2 separate regions of the Homo sapiens genome follow, and region 1 is linked to region 2. The links come from fine-mapping of genetic effects on gene expression. A gene starts in region 2. The other region holds a variant in brackets. All regions are shown on one strand. Distances are between the middles of the regions.

Region 1 (2,909 bases), 98 kb after region 2:
AGGAGAGGTCTGTAGAAAATTTAATCTTACTAATTGCTGTCTACACCTAGATGATCAAGGGCAAGTAGTTAAAGACATAGTTAGAAATATGACAAAACTGGCACATGTGCCTGTGCAAGTGTGGCATGGATTTGATCCTGGGGCCATGTTTGGAAAATGGTTCCCAGCACTAGAAAGATTTAAAACTCTTATAATAGGAGTTATAATAGTAATAGAAACCTGCTTACTGCTCCCTTGTTTGCTACCTGTACTTCTTCAAACAATAAAAAGCTTCATTGCTGCCTTAGTTCACCAAAATGCTTCAGCACAAGTGTACTATATGAATCACTATTGATCTGTCTTGCAAGAAGACATGGGTAGTGACAATGAAAGTGAGAACTCCCACTAATGAGTGAAGTTCTCAAAGTGGGGGAATAAGGGAGGAGACCACCCCTTATATTGTTTTATGACCAATTTCTGCCTCCAAAGACAGAAGAAGTAAAAACTAAAAGCCAGAAATGAAATCCACAGGCAGACAGCCCAGCGCTGCACCCTGGGCCTGCTTAAAGATCGACTCCTGACCTAACCAGTTATGTTATCTATAGATTCCAGACATTGTATGGAAAAGCACTGTGAAAATCTCTGTCCTGTTCTGTTCCGTTCTAATTACTGATGGCATGCAGCCTCCAGTCACATACCCCCTGCTTGCTCAATTGATCACCACCCTCTCACGCGGACCCCCTTAGAGTTGTAAGCCCTTAAGAGGGACAGGAATTGCTCACCTGAGGAGCTCGGTTGTTGGAGACTTGAGTCTTGCCAAAGCTCCCGGCCGAATAAAGCCCTTCCTTCTTTAACTCGGTGTCTGAGGGGTTTTGTCTGTGGCTTGTCCTGCTACACCAGCTACTTGGGAGGTTGAGGCAGGAGAATGGCATGAACCCGGGAGGAGGAGCTTGCAGTGAGCCAAGATCGTGTCACTGCACTGCAGCCTGGGCAACAGAGCAAGACTCTGTCTCAAAAAACCAAACAAACAAAAAACTGTTAGTGGCAGCAAATCCATATGTGTCTGTGGCAATGTTAGATATGAATTCTAAATTTCTCTTCAAAGAATCAATATGTCAGTATGTTCAATTCTTTGCCTTGTACTTTTAAACTTAACTTCCTTGTAAAGCAACCTTTTTTGATTACCTGCTCCACCCTGACTCATTCCGATTACCTGCTCATTCTCCACCCTGACTCATTCCGATTTCCTGCTCTGCCATAACCATTTTTCCTGCCAAACCACTCACCCCATTACTCTCTTTAAATTAGCCAATTGTATTAGTTTAGCCTGTGTGGTCTAACCCTAGCCAATAGGGAAAAGACACAGCAGCAGGGGCCACATGCGTCAGGGATAAGAACCCCTTCCCCTCCCTTGTCCAAGTGTGTGCTCACCATTGCTCCATCTGTAAGGGTGCACCCTTCTATAGAAGTACATTG[C/A]CTTGCTGAGAATTAAAAAGAATATTTTATATTCAAGTGCTGTTTCTTTTGCAGCACTGAAACTTTATTTATAACAGCAACCTCAATTCTTGCCTCCTTGAAGAAAGAATTTGACTGAGGGGTACAAGGCAGAGTGAGAGACTGAGGAAAGTTTTAGAGCAGGACTGAAAGTTTATTAAAAAGCTTTAGAGCAGGAATCAAAAGAAGTAAAGTACATTTGGAAGAGGATGTAGCGGGCAACTTGAGAGATCAAGTGTGCATAGTTTGACCTTTGACTTGGGGTTTTATACATTGGCACGCTTCTGGGATCTTGCATTCCCTCTCCCCTGATTCTTCCCTGGGAGTGGGCGTGAGCATGCATAGCAGCCTGCCGGCGCTTGGGAGAGGAGCATGCACAGTGTGTTTACTGGAGTTGTACGCGTGCTCACTTGAGGCATTCTTCCCTTACCAAATGTCCCTAGAAAGTCATATACATCTTACTGTGCATGCGTGAGTCCACTTGTCAAACTCCTGAGATATTGGGAAGCTGTTGATCACCAGTTTCAGGTTTTTCTATCTATCAGGAGACTGCCTTTCCCTGGCACTGGCTGCAACCAATTATTATTTTAGAGAGATAGTTAACAACCACTTGACCATCACCTGATGGTCACCCGACATTCCTGGTTAGGGGGGAGGGGGCAGGGCCCTCTCCTGCCCTGCTCATGTCTGACTAGCTACCCTACCCTACTGTAACAAAACCACATAGCCTAGAAATATTGAAGACATTAAGAAAAAGGTGTGTCATGAATGCATAAAATACATGTAGATGCTAGTCTGTTTTATCATATACTACCATCAAATATACACAAATCTACCATAAAATGTTAAAATTTATCACAACTTATGGGCCAGGTGCAGTGGTTCATGCCTGTAATCCCAGTACTTTGGGAGGTTGAGGTAGAGGATTGCTTGAGCCCAGGAGTTTGAGACCAGCCTGGACAATGTAGCGAGACTCTGTCTCTACAAAAAATAAAAAATTAGCTGGGCGTAGTTGTGCATGCCTGTAGTCCCAGCTATTCAGGAGGCTGAGGTGAGAGGATCACTTGAGCCTGGGAGGTCAAGGCTGCAGAGAGTGGTGATCAAACCACTGCACTCCAGCCTGGGTGACAGAGCAAGACCCTGTCTCAAAAAAAAAAAAAAAACCCAAAACAAAACATGCACAGAAGCTGGGTGTGGTGGTGCACACCAGTATTCCCAGCTACTTGGGAAGCTGGAAAAAAAAAAACAAAAAAACTGAGGCACACACTTAAAGATTGTACATGGTACCCTTCCCAGTTGAAAGAAATATAAACAAATGTAAAGATGCGGTATTAGATTATAACTGCATAAAACTGTAGTACATGCTGTACTACTGTAATTATTTCATAGCCTGTTGCTATTGTGATGAGCTCAAGTTTTACAAGTATCTGCTTAAA
Region 2 (2,909 bases):
ATCTGAGGTGAGAGGAATCCACGGTGTATCGTTTAGAGTTGGGAAGACACAAAATAGAGGCTTTACCTGACCACCCTTTCTAAAGACACCACCTAAGTCACTTTATCACATCCACCTGTCTCATTTCCTGTATAGCACTTATGACAGCCTAAAACCATCTTATTTTCTCCTTATCTTCTTTCCCCTCTGGAATATAAGTTCCCTGTGAGCATGGAGTTGGTTTATTCTATTCTCCGCTGTTTCCACAACTTGCAACTGAATAACTCCTGATAAACAATAAGCATTCAACAAATTTGGTAAATTAGTTAATTTCGGCTTTTGACGGTTTCGGTGGTAGGAAAAGGGCGAGTTCGAGGCAACTACCTCTGACATAGCGGTGGGGGGTGGGGATCGACACCTCAAGCATTCTAAAGACTGGAGCGCTGGGTCTGAAATTCAAAAGTGCCGCCTCCAGAGAAGAGTAGAAAGGAGTTGGAGTGTACCAATGCGAGGCGAGAGAGGACGCTGGGCTGAAACAGAAGTGCACCGTTTGGGACCGAAGGCCACGGGAGAGCTACCAGCGTCCCCACATTCTCCGGAGGGGGTCAAGTAAGGCTGGGAAGCCGGCTCCGGCCGGTCCGGCGGGGAGCCGCGCGGCGGAGGACTGAGCTGGCGGGAAGCTGGTTCCAGACGCGACTCCTTTGGCGGGAGGGGGAAGTAGGCGGGGTAACTGGCAGCTCGGCCTGTACCACTGGGCCGGGGCGGGGGCCGCGCAGGAAGCGGCAAGTGACACCTGGAAGGGGTTCGAGTTAGAGCACCCGCGCGGGGAGAGTGGGTTCGAGCAGAACCCCCTCTGGACGGGCAAGGAACCCGTAAGGGTCCGCGACGTTTCAGGTTACATGGGCTGGGTTGTACTACTCCGGCACCGGATAAGGGGTCCAGGCCGGGACGTGCGCAGGGCCGCGGCCAGGTTTATCTCACCAGAGCCATTGGGTCCAATGATGGCGGTGAACCTCTGAAATGGTCCGATAATCTGTCGACCCTTGTACGACTTAAAGTTCTCAATCTCAATCAGTTTCAGGAACCCCATGACGGCCGCGGCGCCGGCGGCAGTAGGACAGGCCGCGCCGTACGCCCGAGAACTGAGGTAGCCCGCGCGGGAAACGCCGCAGTGCAAGCCGGGCGACCGGCAAATGTCGCGAGAATACGTCCAGGCCTAACGGGATTTTCGCCTTCCGGCAGGAGTGGGACCAGGGGCGGGGACTGATGTTGCGTATACGAGGAGCGAGCTGACGACTGGCGTGGTGCCTCCGCCCCCCTTTCTTGTTGCATGGCAACAACAAACACTTGCTCCTGCGGACCAGATCCCCGGAGGAGTTGTTGCTGGGCGGAGTCAGAGCAGTTCTTGAGGTTCAAGGAGGCGGGGGAGACCTGAGCTCACGCTTGCTGAGACAGAAGTCACAGCAGGATTATGCCCCTCAGGGCAAGAGGAAGGTGGGAGCTCGGCTGTGGCTTTAGCCTGGCCAGCTTTCAAGGCTAGGACAAGGACAGGGTCGGGAATTGGAAGGACCCGGGGGGAGCGGAGAGCTGGACGGGAAGGAGGGGCCAACGGGAGGATTCAGTGTTAGGTGAGCTCAGACTTTGCTAATGGTGGGGTGGGATTGGTGGCGGGACGGGTTGCGAAGGCGGACGGGTTGTGAATGGGACTGGGGCTACTCCCAGGCAACAGGGATACAGGCTGGGGAAGGCTACGGCCTGAGATACTACCCCTATCCCCTGCCTCCCTCCTGTTGTACCAAGCAGAGTTCAGAAACTGCCGCCGTAACCCAAGAACAAAGTTGCATGCAGAGCCAACCTAAGAGCTTCAAAATCGGGATTCCTTACTGAGAAAGGTATTTTGTGTGAACCCCCAGGAGTCAGGGTCCCTAAGCCAGCGCTCTCCACCTCCACCTACCTCTGCCTCCATGCCTCTCCCCCATCCCATTCCCACAGCTCTATACCACAATGCCACCTTACCTCTCTTCCCTCTCTGCTCTCTATCATTAATAAGGCAGGGGCCTTAGCAATCCAAGAAGCTTAAAATGTCAGCTGAATCTTCCCCTTCAGTGACCTTATACTGTAATGGCAGGTGAAACCAGTAGGTAAGTTGGTGCCATTCTCAGACTTAAACATGGAAAGGATCTGGTGGTTGCCATAATTATTCCTTTAACTATTTATTAAATTATGTCCGAAGGCTAGAAAGAGTCCTAAAGACTTAGGACAAGTCCAGGAAAGTGAGGAAGTGGCTGGGCATGGTGGCTGACAACTGTAATCCCATCGTGAGGGAGGCAGGCCAAGGCAGGAGGATCACTTGAGACCAGCAGTTCAAGACCAGCCTGGGCAACATAGTGAGACCCTATCTCTACTAAAAATTAAAAAATTAGCTGGGTGTGGCAGCTCTCACCTCTGGTCTACCCAGGATGCCGAAGCAGGAGGATCACTTGAGCCTGGGAGGTTGAGGCTGTAGTGAGTGGTGTCCGCACCACTTCACTCCAGCCTAGGTGACAGAGCAATACCCTGTCTCAAAAATAAATAAAGGGAGGAAGCTTGGTAGATGGAATCTAGTAGGGGAGCCATAAATGAAGTTCAGCTGGGAGAAACAATCAGGCTGAGGGGATAAAATGGCTAAAAGACAGCAATCTCATGTAATCCATGGGGAAATACTGTTCCCTTTTAAAAGATGAGATGGTGAGCCTGGGTAACATAGCAAAACCCAATCTCTACAAAAAAATTTTAAAAATTAGGCAGGCATGGTGGCACACACCTGTAGTCCCAGCTACTCAGGAGGCTGGGGCAGGAAGATCCTTTGAGCCCAGGAGTTTGAGGCTGCAGTGAGCCATGATTGCACCACTACACTCCATCCTGGGCAACAGAGAGAGACCCCATCTAAA

What was found. PIP is the estimated chance that this variant, and not a neighbour inherited with it, causes the effect.
Region 1: its variant is the best candidate, but not a certain one, in a credible set for the expression of RIBC1 in whole blood (TOPMed, PIP 0.83).

Annotation. Positions count from the first base shown.
Region 1 is chrX:53,519,902-53,522,810 of GRCh38, forward strand. No RefSeq gene overlaps it. Among named protein-coding and RNA genes, the nearest start is that of MIR98, 35 kb to the right of the region's middle. The variant C/A (reference allele first, on the strand shown) is at 1,456.
Region 2 is chrX:53,421,532-53,424,440 of GRCh38, forward strand. RIBC1 (RIB43A domain with coiled-coils 1) reads left to right here and starts at 1,342. Exons shown (of 8, transcript NM_001031745.5): 1 at 1,342-1,473; 2 at 1,783-1,871. It overlaps SMC1A (structural maintenance of chromosomes 1A), which reads right to left and starts at 1,123. Exons shown (of 25, transcript NM_006306.4): 1 at 961-1,123. The coding sequence starts at 1,069. RefSeq lists enhancers at 280-1,254, 371-550, 671-720, 911-1,090, 1,255-2,226 and 1 more.